3 separate regions of the Homo sapiens genome follow, and all the other regions are linked to region 3. Evidence: fine-mapped expression QTL. A gene starts in region 3. Each other region holds a variant in brackets. All regions are shown on one strand. Distances are between the middles of the regions. Region 1 overlaps RAB30 (RAB30, member RAS oncogene family). Region 2 overlaps ANKRD42 (ankyrin repeat domain 42). Region 3 holds the start of RAB30-DT (RAB30 divergent transcript).

Region 1 (4,246 bases), 93 kb before region 3:
AAACAATACCTTTTGATTCAACAGGACATCAATGAATGGACCGACAAAGCAAGTCCAGCATAGGGCATAATGGAGGGCCAGTCTCTTGGCCTAACAACGTGCAACCAACCTCTTCCCTGAAAGATAAAGGTGGGATGCACTTGTGGCAGAAGAACGAGGCCCCATTAAAAAAATCATTAGCTATGAATTAACAGATATTTAATTGAACATGTTATGAGAGGCAAAGTACTACATACAACATGGAATTTAGGTTAATAGGTCACCTGCTCCAATCTCCAACCAATTGGATCCTCTCCACATCTTTGCCTCTTGACAGAGGCTATTACCTGAGGCAGACTGTCCCATAGTGAACCAACTTTTTGAGAATGGTCGCCCTGACATGGAACCCAAATCTGTGTCCCTACGGCCTCATTCAGTAGGCCTCATTCCACCCCTCTGAACCACAGAGCATCTTGTTCTAATGCACTAATTGTATTCCCCTCTTTTTCCTAACCTAAGTCTCCCCAAATCCTTCAAGTATTCTTTAAATGGCTTGCATTTAAAATTCCTTCATCAGACTGGTAATGCCTCAATTTGTTTTTAATTTCAAAGTATGGCTCCTGGAAATGATAATAACATTCCAACATCAAGGGACTGAGGAGAGGAGATGAAATGCCATCTCCCTTACTCTAATGTTGCTATATTAATATGTGTTTTGAAGGGATGATAATTTCTTAATTCAGTATGAAAAAATTACCAGTGTGAAGAATGTAAAGGAAGGCATCTTTCCTTCCAAACGCAAATAGGCTCATGCCACAGAAATGAAATCCAAAAAGAAAGTAAAGAAAACATATCCCTCCCTTATCCCAAAATTAGTGTTTAACCATGCTGCTTAAATGGAACACATTTTGTCTGAAGGATGAGAAGCAAATGTTGTTTCACAGCTTTTAATTCTTTAGCGAAGTCTCAAAAGTATCATAGTATAAACATGTCAGGACCATGGTTGAGAAAAGTAACCAGTTGCAGTTAAAACAACAACAACAACAACAAAAAATTTTGGAAAAAAAGGAATGGCAAACTCTAGAAGATCTCTCCCAGAGGCTAATAGAGCAATGATCCCTAAGTACTCATTACTATGAAATACAGAGTTCTACAAGATTAAGAAATAAAAAAGACATTAGATTTTTGCCCTAAATGACAGGTAATAAATCTAAACTTAGGAACATTTCCTCACAGTTCAAAAAGTTCTGCCCACCTTGATTAACTTGTTTTCTGAATACCTTTAGTTGCTGGCTTAGTGGAGAAGGCCATTGGTTTGATATGCAAAAAAAAAAAAAAAGATTTTTTTCTGATTGTGCTATTTCATTCATGTGGCTTGGCTTAAAAGAAGATGTTTCACTTTAGTAGGAAGACCAATTCAAACATCATTTACAACTGACGTTTATTCAGTATGAGTCATGAACTGAAACTTGGTGTGGGATCTGGTGGAATTATGGGCTAGCTTAAAGGGTAATGTGGCAAATCATTGGCCTAATTCTGTGGGAATCACCAGTGTCCTCCCAAGGCATATATTCATGAATGAAAGAAGATAAGAACCCAGTCCTTTGCTAAATCTGGCGTCTCTGGCCAAATCTAAACGGCTTAAATAATCCTCATCCAAATATCTTATTTTGGCCAATCGTTTCTACCTTCCTTATAAACTCTAAATCAGAACTTGACACATTGTCAAATCAACCCATTTAACTTTCATTTTTAGTTTTCTTGCCACTTTACTCAGGGAGAGATAAAAACGTGAAATGATTAAAAGACCGAGAAAAAGAAAGGCCAGGAAGAACCCATGGCCTAATCTAAGTAATCCATCAAAAAAGATAATTGGCCCTGTAAATTCAAAAAATATTAATATAATTCAACAGATTTAATAAAAGCACACAAAGGGAGAAAAAGCCTTCTATGGGCAAAGAAGCACAAAATCCTTTGAGGATGTAGTCTATACAAAGCCATAAGAAAATATCATTATCAGCAAACTATTATTTCATAGATTTTCCCAAGCCTGACTCCATGACATGAGTATCATGCATTTTCACTGGAAACTGAAAAAAGTTTTGCCATATATTTAATAACTTTATTGAATGAAGAAAAAGATCACACCAAAAATGGAGGAATACATCAACCCTGGTGGTCTTAGTAGACCGAGCCAAATTAAACTATATGATAAAGCAATTTCTCTTTTTTCATCCACCACTAAATGAGAGTTCATTTTTATCTAAAGAAGGCTCATCTTAGCAAATATTGCCATGACAATAAGACTGTTAGGCAAACCAATAAATTTAGGTTCTGGCCTGGGTTAAGATGA[CTG/C]TATTTAGTGTCCTTTCTCAAGTTCTACTTGAAGGAATTTCTGTTTAATCAAAAAAAGCTCCCCCAACCACTACCACCCCACCTTGGCACTTAAATGTTTATTTGACTAATATTTATTGCACCTACAATATTGTCAGGGATTGTTTTCAAACTTCAGATATATTAGTAGACAAGTATCCATAAGGCCTAATCTGGAATTCATACAACTAAGAAAAAAAGAAACAAAGTCCCACATTCTCATGTGTTCCTGCTGATGGGCTGTGGATGGGTAAGTTATGGAAAGGCTGGGAGGAGCAACAAGGAAGATAGAGGCCAAGACCAGAGCTTTTTAATCCCCTTCTGAGTCTGGCCAAGGGTATATAGAGAAGGCTAAACCCTAGGGAATAATACAAGTGTGACCCTAAAAGGTATTATTTTGCAACTAAATCAGTCCAATCTAACACAGCCATTTCCTCTAAGTTCACAAAGCAACTTTATTTTCAACACACTTGCAACTGTGAGACAAAGTTGGGTCATCATGTGCTGGGGACACTGGATTTTTGCCCTAAATGACAGGTAATAAATCTAAACTTAGGAACATTTTCTTACAGTTTAAAAAAAATTCTTCTGCCCTCCTTGATTAACTTGTTTTCTGAATACATTTAGTTGCTGGCTTAGTGGAGAGGATGGGGAGGGAAAGGCAACAATTATTATAAATTATTTTGGTTTTTATTAAAATGACTTTTCTTTCCTGCAGAGACAGATTCTAAAAGAAAAACAAGTCAAACTTCTGGGATGCCTTTCTCTTTCCCACAGGATCAGGAAAAACACAGTGAGGCCAACCAAAAGTATCAGCCCCTTAAAAAATATGCATAATCTCATGTGCAAGACACTGGTCAATCTAGAACCTGCTAGAGAAATGCCAGAAATGCTTTATCCACATCATGTCTCTACATGACTAATTTCTTTACAATTAAATAGCTTTCAAACATCAACATATCAGAACTGAGATTGTCACCATCTACAGCAACAGTGGAATTACACATCATATCCTTATTCCATTACTCATCCCTCAGTTATGCTAAGCAGCAAGCTACAGAAACATCTGACAGCATCAACAGCATACAGGTTTAATTATTTTCCCAATTTGCATTTATATCAGTGAACAAATTGGAAGCTATCAAAGTATGGCACTGAAGAAAAAGAAACACATATTCAGCAGCACATCTCCCATTTTGAGTCCTGTTTTTAAATTGGCTAAGTAAAGGCATATACACCTCCATTTGAATTGGAGATTTGCAGTAACACAGGCATATAAGGATGGGAGGGAAGGAGGGAGGGAGGGAGGGAAGAAGAAAAGGAGAGACCAGAAAAATAGAGAGGAAAAGAGAAAGAAAAAAGAAAGAACATATGGTTAAGCGTCTGAAGGTAACATTATTACAAGAAGGAGGGGATAAATGACAGTTCAATCTGCTTCCACGAGCAGAATTTTTCTAAGGTTATCATCGAAGATATAAAAATGGGTCGTGAGACTTTTCATCTGTTGCTATTCTCACTTATCATACTAAAAAATCTACAAAATCCTAAGCCTTGGTCTGTCCAAGATGGAGAGTACCAGGAAGTAAAAGATGTGACCTACTATCAAGGACTGTGCTCTGCTAGGAGCCCTGCACTACAGTCCATTAATCCACAGTATTTTGGTCATATCTGGTCTGTTTCCTCATACTACTCAAAATGTGTTAGAGCTAAGTTTTTATATTAGAATGTCATCAACCATTTGTTTATTTTTTTCATTTTGCAAACGTTTTCATTTACATAAAGGGCTGGAGAGACAAGAAAGTGGTAGAGATTCAGAGGGGAACATAAAAGGAAAAGTATTCTCTTTTCCCAAAAATCCACCTTTAAAAAGGTAGTAATGAGACTTTGAGAAAGA
Region 2 (4,246 bases), 170 kb after region 3:
GCTCTTATCACATTTAATACTTATTGCAGTTTTATAAAGCAGCAGTGTGCTTTGCTTATAAAACAATCGTCTATGTTAAAGATGAGGAAATTGATGTTTAGAGAAGTCAGGTGGCTTGACTGAGGTTAGATATATAGCTAGTAAGAGCAGAGCTAAGATTGCATTTTTTAAAAGTATTCATTCACTCATCAACTCTTTAGACATTGGTTGAGGGTCTGTAAGTTGCAGCCACTTGCTGTCGTCTGAGGATATGAAGATTATAGCCCTGTCCTCACATCTTATTGTTTAATAGACCTAAACTCAAGTCTTTCTTTTAAGTCTATTCAGTTTGTTTTCTTCAGCTTCCTTGAGTTTCAAGATGGATGAAGAAGAATAGTTACAGGTTAAATGAGCACATTGTTGAGTGATTGGCTTTAGGTGGGAAGACACATAAGCAGAGTTGTGAAGGTGAAAATAAAGACAGCATGTGTTATGAGGTGAAGATTTGGACAAAGGTGGTAAACAGTTTAGGTAATTAAGTGTGGCTTTACAGGCCTATAAATTTTGAGTTGTAAGAATCAGAAGAATACATATATATCATACATCTATCATATAAATATATGCTGAAGCAAGACTTTTTGAAGTCTGTGTAGGTCCTTATGGTTAGAATGTGCTCACATTCTTGTGAAATACAAGATTGGTTAGGAGCTATTTATAGCAGGAGATAAGCACTGGATAGTATTAGAAAAGCCTGGATTCTAGTTTCAAACTACTTTTTACTAGCTGTGTGATTTTAAATAAATACATAAATAACCTTTTTGAGTTTCAGCTTTTATATCCGTGTGTAAAATTATCTGTGTGGGGCCTGAGCACAGTTGATTAAATGTTTGTCTAATGAATCAGTAAGTGAAATAGAGAAAATAATATTTGCCCAATGTACTTTTGCCAGTTACTGCAAGGATCAATACTTAACTAAGTACTCTATAATGGTACTGTCCAAAATTTTAGAAAATTGTTACTAATAACTAACTTTTTTGTGTGTAATTCCTGTTCTTTTTCCTTTTTTTGAACAGCTGCTGGACAAGGCCACATAGAGTGTTTGCAGTGGTTAATTAAAATGGGAGCAGACAGTAATATTACCAACAAAGCAGGGGAGAGACCCAGTGATGTGGCAAAGAGGTATAAATCTCTGTCTTCTTTACTCCTTTCTTTTCTCTTTAAAGTTTTGCGTATACTTTTTTGGACTCAAAAATCTCTGAAGTTTTAATGGAATTTTAGAGGACTCAATCAAATACAGATGGAATGACAATTTTCAAGCTGAATTGACAGCTGCCATTATATCAGCTTTTCTTTTTCAAGCAGTAATTCTCCACTGGGAGGTAATATTTTCCCGTTTCCTCATGGGAGGGGTCTTTGGAAATGTTGGGGAAGGTTGTCACAATGACCAGAGACCTTCACCAACTGGAGGTCCGGTCTGGGAATGCTAAATGTTCTGCAGTGCTCAGAACAGTAATTCATGATTTGTCCCATCCAAATGCCTGTAGCATTCCCTGTTAAGAAATGCTGTGTGATAAAAATAAATAGTCAACATTAATAATAGAAAAATAAGTGACTTGGATTTTGAAACATATTTTGCAATTTACATCCGAATTAAATATAGCATGTATTTTTAAACCTAGCCAGCTCATTCAGGTTAGGTTCTCAAGAAATATTTACTCCATCTATTTGTTCGTTTGGTTGTTCTTTCATTCAGCTTCCCGTATACTTACCATGTTCCAAGTTCTGTGATTAGTGGTAGAAATACAAAGGGGAGAAAACACAGTCACCGCCCTCAAGGAGTTTACAGTATTGTGGAGAGACAAATATGCAAATAAAATTCTTATTAATTCTAATCATTATACTGTATTACATGGTATGTGTAAGGTACACTAAGAATATAGAAAAAAATCTTTCTGTTTGAAAGTTGTAAGGGAGAAACTTTAATACAGAGGAAGGTAAAAGTTATGAAGGAAACTGCATGGGGACAGAATTTAGATAGAGGTGAAAGAAAAAACTTTTCTTTTGAGGAAGCAACATTTCTGTTGACACTTGTAAGCGTAAGTGTAAATGTAAGGAGGAGTTGTAAGACAACACCTTATATGTTTGAAGAACTGCATGTGGATTAGAAGGCTGGAATCTAAACTAGGAGTGTGGGCTAACAATGGCAGATGAGTCTTGACAGTATGCTCTGGTCCAATCATTTGCTAAG[T/A]TGCCATGCAACTTTTGTTTGTGAGCTCATGTTCCCTAAAATTTTGTTTATGGAATTTCTTTGATGACTTGGAGTGTGGTTTTGTTGTACCATGTACCTGGGATCATTGTCAGCTCAAGTCTATTTTATTGGTTTAAAATGGCTTTATCAAGGTATAATTGACACACAATAAAATGCATATATTTGTACGGTACAACTGATGAGTTTTGATGTATGCGTATCCTGTGAAACCATTGCCACAATTAAGATAGTGAACATATTCATCACCGTCAAAGTCTCCTGCCACTTTATAACCTCTCTCCCTTTGACTGCTCCCCAGTGTGCCCAAGTAAACGCTGATCTGCTTCCTGTCACTGTAGATTGGTTTGCATTTTCTAGAGTTTTATATAAATGGAATCATACAATATATATTTATGTCTGGCTTCTTTCACTCAACGTAATTATTTTGAGATTCATCTGTGTGTATTAGCTGTTCATTTCCTTCTTACAGCTGAGTAGAATTCCATAGTATTCCATAATTCAATTATCCACTCACAGGTTGAAGGACATCTTGATTGTAGTTCATTTTCTTCTAACAGCTGAGTAGAATTCCATAGCATTCCATAATTCGATTATCCACTCACAGGTTGAAGGGCATCTTGATTGTATCATTTTTTGGTGGTTATGAATAAAGCTGCTGTAAACATTACTATACAGGTTTTTGTGTTAACATGTTTTCAATTCTTTGGTAAGTCTATGAGTAGGATTGTTGGGCCATATGCCAAGTGTATGTTTAACTTTATAAGAAACTGCCGAAGTGCCTTCCAAAGTGGCCATACAGATTTGCATTTCTAGGGGCTGGGTGCAGTGGCTCACACCTGTAATCCCAGCATTTTGGGAGGCCAAGGCAGTGGATCACTTGAGGTGAAGAGTTCGAGACCAGTCTGGCCAACATGGTGAAACCCTGTCTCTACTAAAAAGGAAAAGTTCAGGCCGGGCATGGTGGCTCATGCCTGTAATCCCAGCACTTTGGGAGGCCGAGGCGGGCGGATCACCTGAGGTCAGGAGTTTGAGATCAGGCTGACCAACATGGAGAAACCCTGTGTCTACTAAAAATACAAAATTAGCCAAGCATGGTGGTGCTTGCCTGTAATCCCAGCTACTCAGGAGGTTGAGGCAGGAGAATTCCTTGAACCTGGGAGGTGGAGGTTGCTGTGAGCCGAGATTGTACCATTGCACTCCAGTCTGGGCAACAAGAGCGAAACTCTGTCTCCGAAAAAAAAAAAAAAATTCAAAAAATTAGCCTGGTGTGGTGGCGTGCACCTGTAGTCCCAGCTACTACTTGGGAGGCTGAGGCAGGAGAATTGCTTGAAGCTGGTAGGCAGAGGTTGTGGTGAGCCTAGATCGCACCACAGCACTCCAACCTAGGCGACTGAGCTAGACCCTCAAAAAAAAAAATTTTGCATTTCTGTCAGCAATGGATGTCAATTTCTGTTGTTCTACATTCTCACCATCATTTGGTATTGTCAGGGTCTTTTTTTAATTCTAGTAATGAAATAGGTATGTAGTGGTAGCTCACTGTGGTTTTAATTTGCATTTTCTAATGAAAAATGATTTTGAGCATCTTTTAAATATACATACTTGCCATCTGTATATTTTCTTTGATGAAGTGATTATTCAGATCTTTTGCCCACTTTAAAAAATTGAATTGTTTTCTTGATGTTGAGTTTTAAAGGTTCTTTGTATATTCTGGATACTAGTTCTTTTTCAGATATATACTTTGCAAAGATTTCCCTTTTTTACCGGTTGTATCTCGTTTTTTCATTCTCTTAATGTCTTTGAAGAGCAAAATTTCTTACTAATTTATCCTTTTATGTATTATGATTTTGGTGTCATATCTAAAGAAGTCTGATTAACACAAAGTCATAAAAATTTTCTTTTATGTTTTCTTTTAGAAGTTAGTGTTAGCTTTTATATTGAGGTCTGTGATCATTTTGAGTTAATTTTTGTATATGATATGAAGTATGAGTCCAAGTTCTT
Region 3 (4,246 bases):
GAGATAGAGAAATAAACAGAATTTCAAGAGATGTGGGTGGGATGGGGTGGGGTGGGGGGAAGAAATGAAAGTACAGGAGAGAAGGGTAGGGTGTCCAGAAGAGCAGAGCGTCATCAACAGAGAGACGCAGAGGCAAAGGCTAACTGTTGATCTTTTCCCAAATCCAAAAGCTGCTCATTGGCATCCCAATAAATCACTCTACTACAAAGCCCATACAATGGACTGTCCTTTGCATTCAGCATCAAGCAGCATTTAATGAAATATCACACAGCTACAACTTTGGAGACCTAAGGATCTGAATTTAAAATGAACAAAATTGGCTTAGCAGCAGAAGACAGCCAGTAAAGAATTTCGCCCATGTCTGACTCAGCTAGGAAAAGGTTTAGCATTCTAGAGTTAAGCAAATACTCTGGCATTTCTCCTTCTTTTGACATTCCAAGAGGGGGTGTGGTTGACCCCAGGCCCATTCATTTCCAAGGGTGTAGATCTCTCAGCCAAGACTGGCCCCATCTGTTGTGGAGCCAGCCAGCTGTTTATCTCAAAGTAACATATCTATTGCCCTAATTATCCCTATAACTCTTACAAGAGCATCATGTAAGTCAGAATGCTTTCTCTCCTGTTAAATGTCAGTTCGTTTAAAAAAACAACAATAACAAAACAACCAAAATCACTCTTCCATGGGCACCTTTCAGTAATGGCAAATGAAGGTTAACAGCGCTTCTAACTTTCCCTTTCTCTAATGTGTTAAAATGAACCCCTCTTCCCTAATCGATCTCTTCAAACCGTTATTTGTGAGTAGTGACTATGCCTCAGGAAACAGCAGCTCATTATGGTACCATTGTCAGTGGCAAAGAGCCTATGCAATGTAATTTAAAACACACAAGCACAAATCTGTCGGCTCCACTTCCAAACAATCTTGAATCCAGCAGTCGGAGAACGGAAAACATTTAACAAAAACGCTGCTTCCAGCAGCCTGAAAGAACCTTCGCCAGACACGTGAAATGTTTCTGACTGGCACGGAGTGCACCATTAAAGGACACTGTCACCTCAAATCAGCAGAAAAGGCGAGACAAACCACATAGACATACACACATAAAATAAAGCCCTACAAAACTTAAGCACGTTCATCTTAAAAATTAATAACTAGTGCTCGTCCAAGCGACATTCAAATGTTCTAAAGTAGTGCGACCACATTAATTCACTGTCTCCATTTCTCCCCACGCATCACCCCTTCCCACTCAAACCTCAGCTCTCGGGCCGTGTGTGACAGGACTGCAGTCCCCCACCTCTGCCTTCCTCAGATTTTCCAAGAGCACTCCCCAACATCCTTCCCAGCCCAGCCCCCTCTCTCCGCCTCAAAAAGGTTGAGAGGAGTTGCGACTAGGGAATTGGCAGGCACCCGTCCTCTGGCGGGGGAAGGTTGCTGGAGTTGTTCTTTGCAGTGACCCAAATGGCACAGAGCTTTTCCCCTTAGCTGTGCCTGCAAGCCTCTCCCCAATCCCCCCCACCTCCCCACCGCTCACAGCTTCCCAAAAGAAAGCCTTGAGAACTAAGCGGGAGGAATAACTTGGTAGAAGCATTTGAATAAATCACTTCAACTCACCTGGTTTGGGATTTTTCTCCCCACCCCAGGCATAAACAGAAATGGATGTGCGAATGAGTCACGCACGCAAGGGAAGGTCTGCGATGTCCTGAGTCCAAGGGCTGGAGTCAGTCCCTGCCCTGGTGCTGCTGCTACACTTAGCTCAGCTGGAGCGAGCGGCAATCGCAAGCCCAGCAGCAGCAGGGGGTGGAGAGACCGTAGCACAATGAATGCAGTGGGGCTTTTGCAATGACATCATCCCTCTGTCCAAACGTCCCCAATAGCCATGCTCGGGAGCGGTGCTTTCTGGGAACTGTAGTCTTCTTACGTCCTGAAGGGATACCCAGGCAATCCCCGAAACTACAATGCCCAAAATGCTCCAAGTGGGACGCGCCCAGAGTGAAGGAGCAAAGGGGACTCGGCCGCCATGTTAGGAGTACTGGGACGATTCCGCGGAGCCGGGCAGAGGTTTTAGGGGTGCGCAGGAGTCAAGTGGTGGTTCAGTGGGGACGGTGAGGTGGAGGACGATCTGGTCGGATAGCCGCGGGCACGAACCTGGGAACCAGAGGGTGGAGGCCATGCTGGGGACTGATGTAGGGCGGGACCGACTGGAAGCGGCATCCAGAGGCCCAGTGAGCCTCGGTCTCAGCTCCTGAAGGGGTTGCATGGGGCCCTACGCTTCCTTCTCCATTTTTTAGCTAAGAGATTGAGAGAGTCGGTTTACTTTTGGGCTTGGAGTATCATTTAGATCTGTTAACAGTACAGTTGAGAGAGTTGGTGTCTTTTGTTGAGGTGCGAGGACCCGAGGCGGCGACCCTCGCCTTTATTCGGAGAAGCCCACTTCCACCCACAGAGTTGGGGTAGTCCTCCGAAATGCATTTTTGTTTTGCCGTTTGTTTTCCAACCCCCTTTCACTCTCCCCAAAGCTTCAGATTCACTGATTTTTCATACAGGAATGATTAACAAAGGCGTCCGAAGAAATCGTTGTTGGAAGGTGACCAAGGTGGAAAGAGACGTTGCTTTGGCCCTGCAAGTAAGAAGAGAGAGGGAATAGCCTGAAGGAGTAACACTAAATTTAAAATGACACTTTTTTACCAACCAGCGAAAGCAGATGTTCAAAGGGGATATTGGCCAGGTGCGGTCGCTCACGCCTTTAATCCCAGCACTTTGGGGGCAGACGCGGGGAGATAGCGTGATTCTAGGAGTTCAACCCCAGCCTGGGCAACATGCGGAGACCCCGTACCGTCTCTACAAAAACATTAAACAAAAAAATTAGCTGGGCATGGTGGTGTACCCCTGTAGTTGCAGCTACACTAGAGGCTGAGGTGGGAGGATCGCTTGAGCCCGGGATGTTGAGGCTGCAGTGAGCCTCGATCCTACCACTGTGCTCCAGCCTGGGCGACAGCAAGCCCGTGTCTCAGAAAAGGCGGGAGGGGTGGGATATTATTGATGATAGGCCTTCTGACGTCTGGCAATAGATTCCAGAGTAACATCGGTCATGGATAAATTTTTTTTTTAACTAAGTGACTGAAACCAAAGTTAATTGTCTTTTGAGTGATTTTGCACAGTATCTCAAAATGAACTGTACTTTTTTTCTTGTGTCACTGAAACAGTGCTGTGTGTTCTTTTTCAGAGTCTGTCACACTAAGATGAGAAATGTCCTTTCTTCCTGAAGGTGTCTGATGTGTAAAAATATGATATACTTTGTGCTGTTTCCTCCCTTCCCTTTTGCATATTATTCTGAAACAACATTAACTAGTTACTTTGCGTCATTGAAGGTATGCACTTCCCCTCTATGTTAGGAGTGAATAAAATTAAAAATAGATCCTTATAACAAAGAAAGGCAGATAGAATGATTAAAAATGACCAAAACATGTTAGAAACAGTCTCTCAGGTGTATGCAGATGGTAATTACAAAAATACTTTTTCAAAAAATGATCTTCTGTGTCATGTTTCTGGGAACAAGTCAAGATGAATGAGTTTGATTTTTAAGCAGAAGTAGTATGTGTTGGTGTCATCCATGAATACAACAATGAAAAAGGCTCAAAGTTGTTGTTATTCAGAAACTTCTCTAAGTAATGGTGGTAAGTACAGGAAAAGGAGCAATGTCTACCATTTTCTTTCTAACCTTCGATTTAACTATTGTAATGTTGTAAGCTTAACAGAGACTTACACTTAGGCTTAATTTCAAGCTCTTCAATCATTTTTCCCGGTTGGTGATTCAGGTGTATTCTCATGTCTTATGTAAACTTATCATGAGTGTTGTTGATTTATAATATATTTCTTTATGTAAGCCATAGCCTTGTCAGTTTGAGTTATATGGAAGACAAATTGTAGGGAAAAAGAGCAACAGATTACTCAGAAACCTTCTGTGTGAGCTGGGCATAGTAGTGCATGCCAGTAGGCTTAGCTACTTGGGAGGCTGAGGCAGGAGGATCACTTGATCCCATTAGTTTGAGGCTGCAGTGAGCTATGATTGTGTCACTGTACTCCAATCTGGACAACAGTGAGACTATGTCTGTTTTTAAAAAAGAAAGAAAGCTTGTGTTTGAGAAGTGATACCTCTAGAATACAGTGATTTCTATAATTTGTCATGTGTTTGGGTAGTTTGAAGTTTTTCTATCCTTGTATCTAATGGACATCTGACCATAAAGATGAAAAAAT

What was found. PIP is the estimated chance that this variant, and not a neighbour inherited with it, causes the effect. A credible set is the group of variants that fine-mapping cannot tell apart.
Region 1: its variant is the best candidate, but not a certain one, in a credible set for the expression of RAB30-DT in whole blood (INTERVAL, PIP 0.57).
Region 2: its variant is the best candidate, but not a certain one, in a credible set for the expression of RAB30-DT in subcutaneous fat (GTEx, PIP 0.63).

Annotation. Positions count from the first base shown.
Region 1 is chr11:82,977,189-82,981,434 of GRCh38, forward strand. RAB30 (RAB30, member RAS oncogene family) reads right to left here. Exons shown (of 5, transcript NM_001286060.2): 5 at 1-4,246. Among named protein-coding and RNA genes, the nearest start is that of SNORA70E, 62 kb to the right of the region's middle. The variant CTG/C (reference allele first, on the strand shown) is at 2,333.
Region 2 is chr11:83,235,352-83,239,597 of GRCh38, forward strand. It overlaps ANKRD42 (ankyrin repeat domain 42), which reads left to right. Exons shown (of 11, transcript NM_001300975.2): 8 at 1,053-1,158. Among named protein-coding and RNA genes, the nearest start is that of ANKRD42, 44 kb to the left of the region's middle. The variant T/A (reference allele first, on the strand shown) is at 2,228.
Region 3 is chr11:83,070,088-83,074,333 of GRCh38, forward strand. It overlaps RAB30-DT (RAB30 divergent transcript), which reads left to right and starts at 1,979. Exons shown (of 3, transcript NR_038903.1): 1 at 1,979-2,059; 2 at 2,536-2,717; 3 at 3,216-3,625. RAB30 (RAB30, member RAS oncogene family) reads right to left here and starts at 1,810. Exons shown (of 5, transcript NM_001286060.2): 1 at 1,604-1,810. LINC02951 (long intergenic non-protein coding RNA 2951) reads right to left here. Exons shown (of 3, transcript NR_186233.1): 3 at 2,315-2,609. RefSeq lists an enhancer at 1,763-2,252.